Linked DNA regions of Homo sapiens: region 1 is linked to region 2. The links come from fine-mapping of genetic effects on plasma protein levels. A gene starts in region 2. The other region holds a variant in brackets. All regions are shown on one strand. Distances are from middle to middle. Region 1 overlaps LOC105372441 (a long non-coding RNA gene). Region 2 holds the start of KLK3 (kallikrein related peptidase 3).

Evidence for each region. A credible set is the group of variants that fine-mapping cannot tell apart. PIP is the posterior inclusion probability: the model's chance that the variant is causal. The UK Biobank Pharma Proteomics Project read protein levels with antibody pairs (Olink). The fine-mapping took linkage between variants from a reference panel, not from the people measured, so its PIPs are less certain.
Region 1: its variant is the best candidate, but not a certain one, in a credible set for the plasma level of the KLK3 protein (UK Biobank, PIP 0.54).

The regions. Positions count from the first base shown.
Region 1 is chr19:50,839,848-50,845,064 of GRCh38, reverse strand. The region is part of intron 2 of LOC105372441 (a long non-coding RNA gene); the gene reads right to left. Among named protein-coding and RNA genes, the nearest start is that of KLK15, 8.9 kb to the right of the region's middle. RefSeq lists enhancers at 128-649, 650-1,172 and a silencer at 4,458-4,645. The variant G/C (reference allele first, on the strand shown) is at 2,753.
Region 2 is chr19:50,851,288-50,856,499 of GRCh38, reverse strand. KLK3 (kallikrein related peptidase 3) reads right to left here and starts at 1,585. Exons shown (of 5, transcript NM_001648.2): 1 at 1,499-1,585; 2 at 101-260. The coding sequence starts at 1,544. RefSeq lists cis regulatory regions at 1,611-1,674, 1,619-1,743, enhancers at 1,737-1,759, 1,952-1,986 and promoters at 1,574-1,909, 1,574-2,125, 1,548-2,207, 1,574-5,212.

The sequences.
Region 1 (5,217 bases), 11 kb after region 2:
ACAGAGCAGCATGTGGAGACTCACGTCTTGAATTTTTGCTCCAAGAACTACTGCAGGAACATACCAGGAAAGCCAAGAGAACCCACAGACCCTTTGAAGGAAGCACATTGCTGCTGCAGGCTCCAGGAGACAGCTGAAAAACTGTGAGTGCTCAAAGTGTGAAAAGTGTGAAGGGGGGATCATCCGCCCCTGCACACACATCCTCACTGGGGAATCTGAAGGTCCAGATCATGGGAGAAGGATTTGACCTTACCTGGAGCCGAGATGAACTTAGAGAGCTGAATGAAATACGGGGGGTAGAGAAAGCAGCAGGAAGAGCCCTGAGGGTACTGTTGGTCCCCAGGGAAGCCATTTCTGACTTCATCTCACAGGGGTCCTTGGGGAGGGCTGCCAACGGAATTGGGGAAAGACTACAGGGAGAAGGAAGCTTCCAGCTGAACTTTGCAACAATTTCAACTGAACACGAAGTTTCCTGGACAGAACTCAGGGGAGGGGGTGAACTGTGAGTGCAGACATGAGCACAGAAGCTGCAGCAGGTGGGGAGGCACGAAACCTGAAAGCCCTGCTTGCTTTCTCAGCAGGGAGGCTTGTAGCCTGGGGCGAGTTCCCAGCCCTGCGCACCTGCTGCCTGCAAACAAACTGTGCATTGATTGGGGATGCACACAGTGGGAATGAGACCAGCTTTTTGGGCTGCATGGGAGCTGGGTGAGCCCTGAAACTGCTGGCTTTCTCCCACTTCCCTGGTGACCCACATGATGCAGTAGAGGCAGCCATAATTCCCCTGGGAACATAACCTCATTGGCCTGAGAACCACACCCCACCCCCACACAGCAGCCACAGCGACCCTTACCCAAGGAGAGTCTGAACTCAGACACCCCTAACCCTGCCCCCACCTGATGGTGTTCCTCTACCTGCCCTAGTAGCCAAAGACGAAGGACATACTCTCTTGGAAGCTATCTGGCCCCATCCTCCACCTGAGAAACCTGAATACTTATCCAGGTAACCCTAGGGCAAGCTGTTTTCCTCCCTGTACTACTGCAGCTGATGCTGTCTTGAAAGTGCCGTCTCCTGGCTGGAGGCCAACCAACACAAAACCAGCGCACTAAAAAATAATACAACCAAGGAACCCCAGCGAGTCTACTTTACTCCTCTGTTACCTCCAACGGAGCAGGTGCTGATATCCACAGCTAAGAGACCTGAAGATGAATCACATCACAGGACTCTTTGCAGACACCCCCCAGTACCAGCCCAGAGCGCAGACGCTCCACTGGGTAGCTAAATCCAGAATCTGAGCAGCCCTTGAGACCCAGATCTTCCTTCTGACATAGTCTACAAAGGAGAAGGAACCAGAAAACCAATTCTGGTAATACGACAAAACAAGGTTATTTAACACGCCAAAAAGATCACACCAGCTCACCAACAATGGATCCAAACCAAAAAGAAATCTCTGAAATTGCCAGAAAAAAAAAAAATCAGAAGATCAATTACTAAGCTACTCAAGAAGGCACCAGAGAAAGGTGAATACCAACTTAAAGAAATTTTAAAAAGTGTTACCGGATATGGACAGAAAAATCTCCAGAGAAATAGCGTAAATCAAAAACAATTACAATTTCTGGAAATGAAGGACACACTTAGAGAAATGCAAAATACACTGGAAAGTCTCAGCAATAGAATCAAACAAGTAGAAGAAAGAACTTAAGAGCCCAAAGACAAGACTTTTGGATTAACCCAATCCAACAAAGACAAAGAAAAAAGTATTTTTAAAAAATGAACAAGACCTCCAAGAAGTTTGGGATTATGTTAAACAACCAACCTAAGAATAATTCATGTTCCCAAGGAAGAAGATAAATCTAAAAGTTTGGAAAACATATTTGAGGGGAATAATCTTCCTTGGCCTTGCTAGAGATCTAGATATCCAAACATGAGAAGCTCAAAGAACGCCTGGGAAATTCATTGCAAAAAGATGACCACTGGTCGGGCGTAGTCGTTCACGCCTGTAATCCCAGAACTTTAAGAGACTTAGGCAGGCCAATCACAAGGTCAGGAGATCGAGGCCATCCTGGCTAACACAGTGAAACCCCTTCTCTACTAAAAATATAAAAAAGTAGCCGGGTGTGGTGGCACGCACCTGTAATCCCAGCTACTCGGGAGGCTGAGGCGGAAGAGTCTCTTGAACCCGGGAGGCGGACGTTGCAGTGAGCCGAAATCGCACCACTGCACTCCAGCCTGGGCAACAGAGTGAGACTCCATCTCAAAACAAAACAAAACAAAAAAAAGATGACCCCCCTAGGCACATAGTCATCAGGTTATCTAAAGTCAAGATGAAGGAGCATCAGGTAACCTATAAAGGAAAACCTATTAGATTGACAGCAGATTTCTCAGCAAAAACCCTACAACCTAGAAGGGATTGTGGTCCTGTCTTTAGCCTCCTTATACAAAACAATTATCAGCCAAGAATTTTGTATCCAGTGAAACTATTGGCAGAACACACAACAACTCCGGGTCAGAGACAAAGGACTTTATTACTCATGGCACAGCCGGCAGCATGAGATTCATGTTCACATGGGCTCACCTTGCCCCCCAGGTCCTACAGGGATGATCAGAGTGGCTCAGGCAGATGCTGCGCACACAGTGGTTTGCGTCAATGCTGGGGAACCTCTGTTTACATGTATTTACAAATCTTCAATCTTATAAGGGAGATGCAAGGAAATCTGCTTGACTTTGAAACTCGGAGAGATATTATCTTTGTTAT[G/C]TCGGACTGCTGATCCACCTGCCCCGGAAGGACATGTTGTATTTACTATCCTAGCCAATAAATAAATCATTATGGAAGGACATTATCTTTATTATCTAAGACAGTGAACAAACATGCTCTGATGCTCTAGAGAAACATCCATAAAAAGACAATCTGGAACTCAAAAGTGGCTAATACCTTTTTCAGGAGACAGGCAGAAAGGTAAGAGAGCCATGGATAATTGTCTCCTAACACCATTCAGTTCATGCTCTCGATGCTTCCCTACAGGATAATCTCAGGCTTCCCAACCAGGCATTCAAAGTGCAGGCATTTGGTCTGGGATACAAAACCCAGCCTCAGTTTACCTGGTTTTTTTGTTTGCTTGTTTGTTTGTTTTTGAGACAGAGTCTCACTCTGTCACCCAGGCTGGAGTACAGTGGTGCGATCTCGGCTCACTGCAACCTCCACCCCACCATGGGTTCAAGCGATTCTCCTGCCTCAGCCTCTTGAGTAGCTGGGATTACAGACACACACCACCACACCTGGCTAATTTTTGTATTTTTAGTAGAGACAATGTTGGCTAGGCTGGTCTCAAACTCCTGACCTCAAATGATCCGCCCGCCTCAGCCTCCCAAAGTGCTGGGATTACCGGCGTGAGCCACCACGCCTGACTTGATCCTGTCTTTCTCATGCTATCTTCTCACTCCCCGTTTCTCACGGTTTTCTGCCTTCACCATTCCCTCCCTCTTTTGATGCCTCTTCCTCACTCCAGTCCTTACTTTATCTCTTCTACACTCCCCGACTCCACCCTCCTTTGTTTTTGCCCGGTCCCTATTTCTGCAGGCTTCTCTTTCCAGCTCCCCGTGTCTCCTTCTCTAGACAGGAAGCACCCATCTAAAAAGGTGAATGCTCCTGCAGTGAACAATCATCTCCAGGCCCACCTGGCCAAGGCTAGAGCATCCCCCAGCCCTCCTGACCTGCGTCCTGAGGTGTGGAGTCAGGTGCAGGGGAGAAAGGAAGCTTCAGTGACAGGTATAGCCCAGTGGTTCCCCAATGGGGCAAAGTTGTCCCCTCCACCCGCCCCACCCTCCTCCACCCATCCAGGGGCACACTGGCATTTTCTGGCAATCTCATCACATTCAGGTTCTGCAAAGACACACATCGGGGGGGTTGCCACTTTATTTGTGGGGTGCAGAGATGGAGGAAGAGAGAGGAGAGAGGGTCTGCCCTGAGATAGTAGACAGTGACAGGTGGTAATGCTCTCCACGGACCACTGAGAGGGACCTGGGGACGCAACGCGCCACACACACAGCAAGGGTGGAGCTGAAACCTGGCAAGAGCCACATTATTCTTTTTTTGCTAATTTGTAATTGTTGTGGGTACATAGCAGGTGGATATATTTATGGGGTACATGAGATATTTTAATATAGGCATATAATGTGTAATAATCACATGAGGGTAAATGGGGTATCCATTACCTCAAGCATTCACCCTTTGTGTTACAAACAATCTAATTATATTCTTTTTGTTGTTTTTAAATGTACAATTAAATTATTATTGACCACAGTCACCCTGTTGTGCTATCGAATACTAGATCTTATTCTATTTCCTCGTACCCATTAACCATCCGCACTTCCCCACTACCCACATACCCTCACCCTCCCCAGCCTCTGATAACTATGCTTCTACTGTCTATCTCCATTAACTCAGTTGGTTTTGTTTTTGTTTTTTGTCCCTATTTCTCCAGGCTTCTGGAGATGGAGTCTCGCTCTGTCTCCCAGGTCGCTGGAGTGCACTGGAGAGGTCTTGGCTCACCACAACCCCCTCCTCCCAGGTTCAAGCACTTCTGTGTCTCAGCCTTCCAAGTAGCTGGGAATACAGGCACGCGCCACTGCGCCTGGCTAATTCTTGTATTTTTAGTGGAGACAGGGTTTCACCATGTTGGCCAGGCTGGTCTTGAACTCCTTACCTCAGGTGATCCACCTGCTTCAGCCTCCCAAAGTGCTGGGATTACAGGTGTGAGTGCCCGGCTAATTGTTTCAATTTTTAGCTCCCAAAAATAAATGAGAACCTGTGAAGTTTATCTTCTGTGCCTGACTTATTGCACTTAACATCATAACCTCCAGTTCCATCCATGTTGCAAATGACAGGCTCTCATTCTTTCTGATGGCTGAATAGTGTTCCACTGTGTATATGTACCACATTTTCTGTATCCATTCATTTGTTGATGGACACTTAGGTTGTCTCTAAATCTTAGCTATTGGGAATAGTGCTGCAATAAACATCATTCTTGGCAATACCACAGCCAGCTTTCCTGCACTGGGAGGTGGGGTGTTCCATGATGACTTTTTACAATCTCAGCCTGGGCAACATATCAAGACCCCATCTCCACAAAAAAAAAAACAAAACGTAAAAATTAGCCAGGTATGGTGGCACACACTTGTAGTCCCAGCTACTCGGGAGGCTGATACCAGAGGATCGCTTAA
Region 2 (5,212 bases):
GTCCCAAGGCTGGCCTTAGAGGTTATCCTGGGGAAAATGCCCAGCTGTTATTCCTCTGGGACACAGACACCTGCTCCCCAGACCCCAGGCCCCTACTCACTTCCTGATGCAGTGGGCAGCTGTGAGGACCCACTGGGGGTGCACCAGAACACCGCCGCAGACTGCCCTGCCACGAGAGGCCACAAGCACCTGCCAGGGTTGGGAATGCTTCTCGCACTCCCAGCCTCCCACAATCCGAGACAGGATGAGGGGTGCAGCACCTGCAGAGGGGGTGCTAGATCAGGGGAATCAGGGTTGACAGGAGGAACTGGGGGACTCGGATAGGAGATGGATTTAGGATGTGGGTTTGAAAAGACACGGGGGCAGAGAACCAAGGCTGGGAGTCCTGGGACATGGGCAGGGGGAGCTGGGAAAGGCTGGGAATTCTGTCAATCTTCCCTAGGTTTGCAGGTTGGTGGCTGGTGCTGGTGGAGAGGCTTCATGCTCTGGGAGCAGAGTTGAACCCAGGGATCAGGGTAGGAGACACAAGACAGCGCCCAGACCATATCTTGAGTCTGGGGATTGGGTCCTTTGTGGTGATTTGGGGTCTTGGACTGGGAGAAGGGAAACTTGGTACAAGTTGTGGATTCTGAGGGGATAAGCGGTGCTAGGAACCAGGGATAAGTGCCTTATGGCGAGGTTCAGTTGCTGGAAGAGGAAGGTTTTGGAAAGTTTAGGAAGTCCCAGGTTGAGAAAACAGTTCTGGTCTGAGTTGGTTTTGTTTTATTTGTTTTTCTTTTTGTTTTTAGGTTTTGAAAAGGATGCAGATTTGGGGAATCAGAGAGCTGGCAGTTGTGGCTGGGGATGCTCATGTTTTTCCTAAGGAAAATGTGGGCCACTGAATGAAGAGTCTGGGGCTAAGAGTCAGGGAATGAGGAGTTCTCAGAGTCCCATTGCCAGACTGAGGGACCCATTTGTTGTCTCAGGCCAGATAGCCTGGCTAGGAAGAAGGAGGTGTCTGGTTGGCATCTGGGTATCCTAGGGCAAGATTGGGAGGCCAAGCATCAAGGTCTCTGGGATAGGGTTGGGCACTCACAGCTGAATGGGAAAAGTCAGTAGACTGTGATAGGATTGAGGGGCTCAGGAGGTGGACCAGTGATACGGTCCAAGGAACCAATGGCATTGAGAGAGGTCCTTGGAGGTTTTGAGCCCCACAAAGAGAAACACGGAGATGCCCAGGAACTTCCCCTTTAGTAAAGCAGCTGGGAGCAGGGAGCTGGCTGGGCAATGGGGAGAAAGTTCTGGGGTAAGTGGGAGGGAGCGGGGACCTGGTGTGGGAGTGAGGACTGTTGCAATATGGAGGGGCTGGGGGTATGGGCTTGGAGTGGGGCTGGGAGAGACAGAAAAGAGCCCAGCTCCCTGTCTGGGCTGGGGTGCTGGGTTGGGGGGGAAAGAGCCTCAGCTTGACAGTCAGGGCTGGCTCCCTCTCCTGCATCCCCCCAACCATGGCCCCTCTCACCAATCCACGTCACGGACAGGGTGAGGAAGACAACCGGGACCCACATGGTGACACAGCTCTCCGGGTGCAGGTGGTAAGCTTGGGGCTGGGGAGCCTCCCCCAGGAGCCCTATAAAACCTTCATTCCCCAGGACTCCGCCCCTGCCCTGCTGGCACCCAGAGGCTGACCAAGGCCCTCCCCATGCTGCTGGAGGCTGGACAACCCCCTCCCACACCCAGAGCTGTGGAAGGGGAGGGAGAGCTAGCACTTGCTGTTCTGCAATTACTAGATCACCCTGGATGCACCAGGCCCTGTAGCTCATGGAGACTTCATCTAGGGGACAAAGGCAGAGGAGACACGCCCAGGATGAAACAGAAACAGGGGGTGGGTACGATCCCCGATTCTTCATACAAAGCCTCACGTGCCTAGATCCTTTGCACTCCAAGACCCAGTGTGCCCTAAGACACCAGCACTCAGGAGATTGTGAGACTCCCTGATCCCTGCACCACTCTGAGACCAGAAACTAGAACTTTTATTCCTCATGCTCCTGAAATAGATGTCTTGGCATTTAGTACATTCTTTTCCTTGCACTCCCAACCCAGAATCCAGCTCCACAGATACATTGCTACTGTCATCATAAAAAGATCTTGTGGTCCACAGATCCTCTAGCCCAGAAATATGAGTCTCCCAAAGTTCCCTAGCATTTCAAAATCCAACGTGCAGCAAACAATGTGGAATTCCAATAACCCCCCACTCCTTGTTCTCCAGACCTGTGCACTCTATCTGTGCAACAGAGATGCCTGCTGACCTGCCCTCCCAGGTCAGAATCATCCTCATGCAAAATCCAATGCCCCTTCTCCAACAAAATATTTAGCCTTTAGGAGCCAGGTTTATGTACCTCAAGATTAAACGACAGGTCAGTCATGGTGGCTCACGCCTGTAATCCCAACACTTTCCGAGGCCAAGGTAGGAGGATCACTTGAAGCCAGGAGTTCAAGGCCAACCAGAGAAACAAAGCAAGATCCATCTCTACAAAAAAAAAAAAAAAATTTTTTTTTTTTGAGACAGAGTCTCACTCTGTCACCCAGGCTGGAGTGCAGTGGCGCAATCTCGGCTCATTGCAACCTCTGCCTTCTGGGTTCAAGTGATTCTCCTGCCTCAGCCTCCTCAGTAGCTGGGATTACAGGTGCCGTGTGCCACCACGCCCGGCTAATTTTTCTATTTTTTTTTTTTTTAGTAGAGACAGAGTTTCACCATGTTGGTCAGGCTGGTCTCAAACTCCTGACCTCGTGATCCACCCATCTCAGCCTCCCATGGTGTTGGGATTACAGGCGTGAGCCACTGTGCCCGGCCCCCCAAAAAATTTAAAAATTATCTGGATATGGTGGTGGACTACTGTAGTCTTAGCTATTGGGAGACCGAAGCAGGAGAATCTCTTAAGGCCAGGAGTTCAAGGCTACAGTGAGCTGTGATCACGCCATTGAACTCCAGCCTGGGAAATAGAATGAGACTGAAACCTCGATTTAAAAAAAAAAAAAAAAAGATTAAGGTGGCATGCAAAATCACAATTTGTAGTCTCAGAAGAGAATCGGGAACTCTTAAGAGCCCTGGTACCTCCACTGTTAACTCCGTAAGATTTCATCAATTTCCAAAAAGTTGGTTATTTCAGCTGTTCAATAAAACCAGAGTAGCTCACTTGATCCAGCCCGAGCTGTGTCTCAAGAATTTGACAAAAGTGGCTGGGCGCGGTGGCTGACGCCTGTAATCCCAGCACTTTGGGAGGCTGAGGCAGGTGGATCACCAGGTCAGGAGTTCGAGGCCAGCCTGGCAAACATTGGTGAAACCCCATCTCTACTAAAAATACAAAAATTAGCTGGGCATGGTGCTGCATGCCTGTAATCCCAGCAACTCAGGAGGCTGAGGCAGGAGAATCACTTGAACCTGGGAGGCAGAGGTTGCAGTGAGCCGAGACTGCGCCACTGCACTCCAGCCTGGGCAACAGAGTGAGACTCTGTCTCAAAAAAAAAAAAAAAAAAAAAAAGAATTTGATAAAATCTTCCCCTGTTTCTAGTTGAGTGATCAGGTAAACTCCAAGCACAGTGAGGGAGACAGAGGTGGATATAGATAATCACAATTTAAGACCATCTTAGAGCTGGAGTGGAAGGATATACTTAGCCAGTGGCCTGACCTCCCCTACACGTGAATTAAGGCTTCCCCGGATTCATCCTGGAAAGGAAGTTTGTCTCCACTCCAGTGAGAACCTCATGGATCCGGTGTCCCCAAGCATATCCTCAACTCATCCTCAACCAAAACCTGACCCAACCCAATTTAATACAAACCAATCCAACTGCATTATACACAGCCCCGACCCCATCAACCCAACGCAACTTAACCTAACAAGCCAACCCTTATGTCTTCCCCCATTGTTTGATTCCCCATCAAACAAAACTCATGGCCACTGTCAAATCTGACAGCTACTTCCACGTCTTCTACCTCCAAAATCAAACCCAGCTTCATCCCCAGTTCAATCCCCAAGGATGTCTGAGCCAACATCAAAACAAATCTATTTCCATCCCAAAGCCATGCCATCCCAAACCACCTCCACAGTGTCAATCCCAAACTCATCCGAAGCACAATTTTACCCCATCTCTAACCCAACTCCAATCTGATCCTCCATCCTAACTGGTCTTCATACTCCACTCTCAATCCTATACCCAGCACTTTATCTAACCAAAGAAAACCAAATACAACCACATCCCCGTTCTCAAGCCTGTCCATTGCCTCCTCCCCACCCATGATGATGCTCCCTTGGCTGTGACCTCACAGGAGTCCGTGCCTCCACCCCCTACTCCTGTACACACCATGGTGTTCATCAGGGCCCTGGGTAGTCCCTTTTACAAGATGTGGTGGAGATAAGGCTGATGCTGGCACAGTGCCTCGTATCTGGGAGACTCACTTGGGAGAGCAATAGACTTGGGGAAAACCCATAAGTTCAGGTCCCTGTGCCCTCCACCCAGAAGCCCTTGAGATTTCATGGATGGTGACATATGGCCATTCTCTAGCACTTTTGAGTCCTGGATCCCTATGATTCCAGGCTCCCTGTCTGACACTAGGCCTCAGCCTGGCACCATGCAGGCCACTCCCACCAGAGGAGGATGTCGGCAGCTCTACGGTTGGCAGGTGGCTGGAGAGGCACGCTGCAGGGATAGTCACAGCAACATGACGTCATGGTGCTGGCCACACCCTCAGAGTGTGGATGCTGGATGATGAGTGGATGACACCCAAGGCCTCTGGGGCATCTTTCATGCTCAGATTGTGCTTGCCCAGGGGCACCTTCATGGAGCTAGAAGGGCTGGTGATACCCTCAAGTGGAGTAAGGATTAGGTGGCAAGATGGAAGAATGGGCAACCCTCGATCCTCAGACTCTTGAGGAATCAAGAGATCCCATTACTATCACCCCAAACCCTGGACCTAATGGTTCCAGCCTCTGCCCTTCAGGGGCCAAAGAGCCTTAAGCCACAAATATACCCAGAACTCTACCCCTCAGGATTCCAGCACCTTCTTCCTGAGGATATGAGATTCTTAGGCCATTCCCACATCAGTACCTCGGGAGCTGGGACCTTACCAGTCTCCTCCCTCATTGACCTAAGAGTTCGGAACTGACACTTTCCCTCCCCCAGTTCCTTCACATCCAGCCTCTTCCTCCTTTGAAATTCAAGAGGGTGGACCCACTCC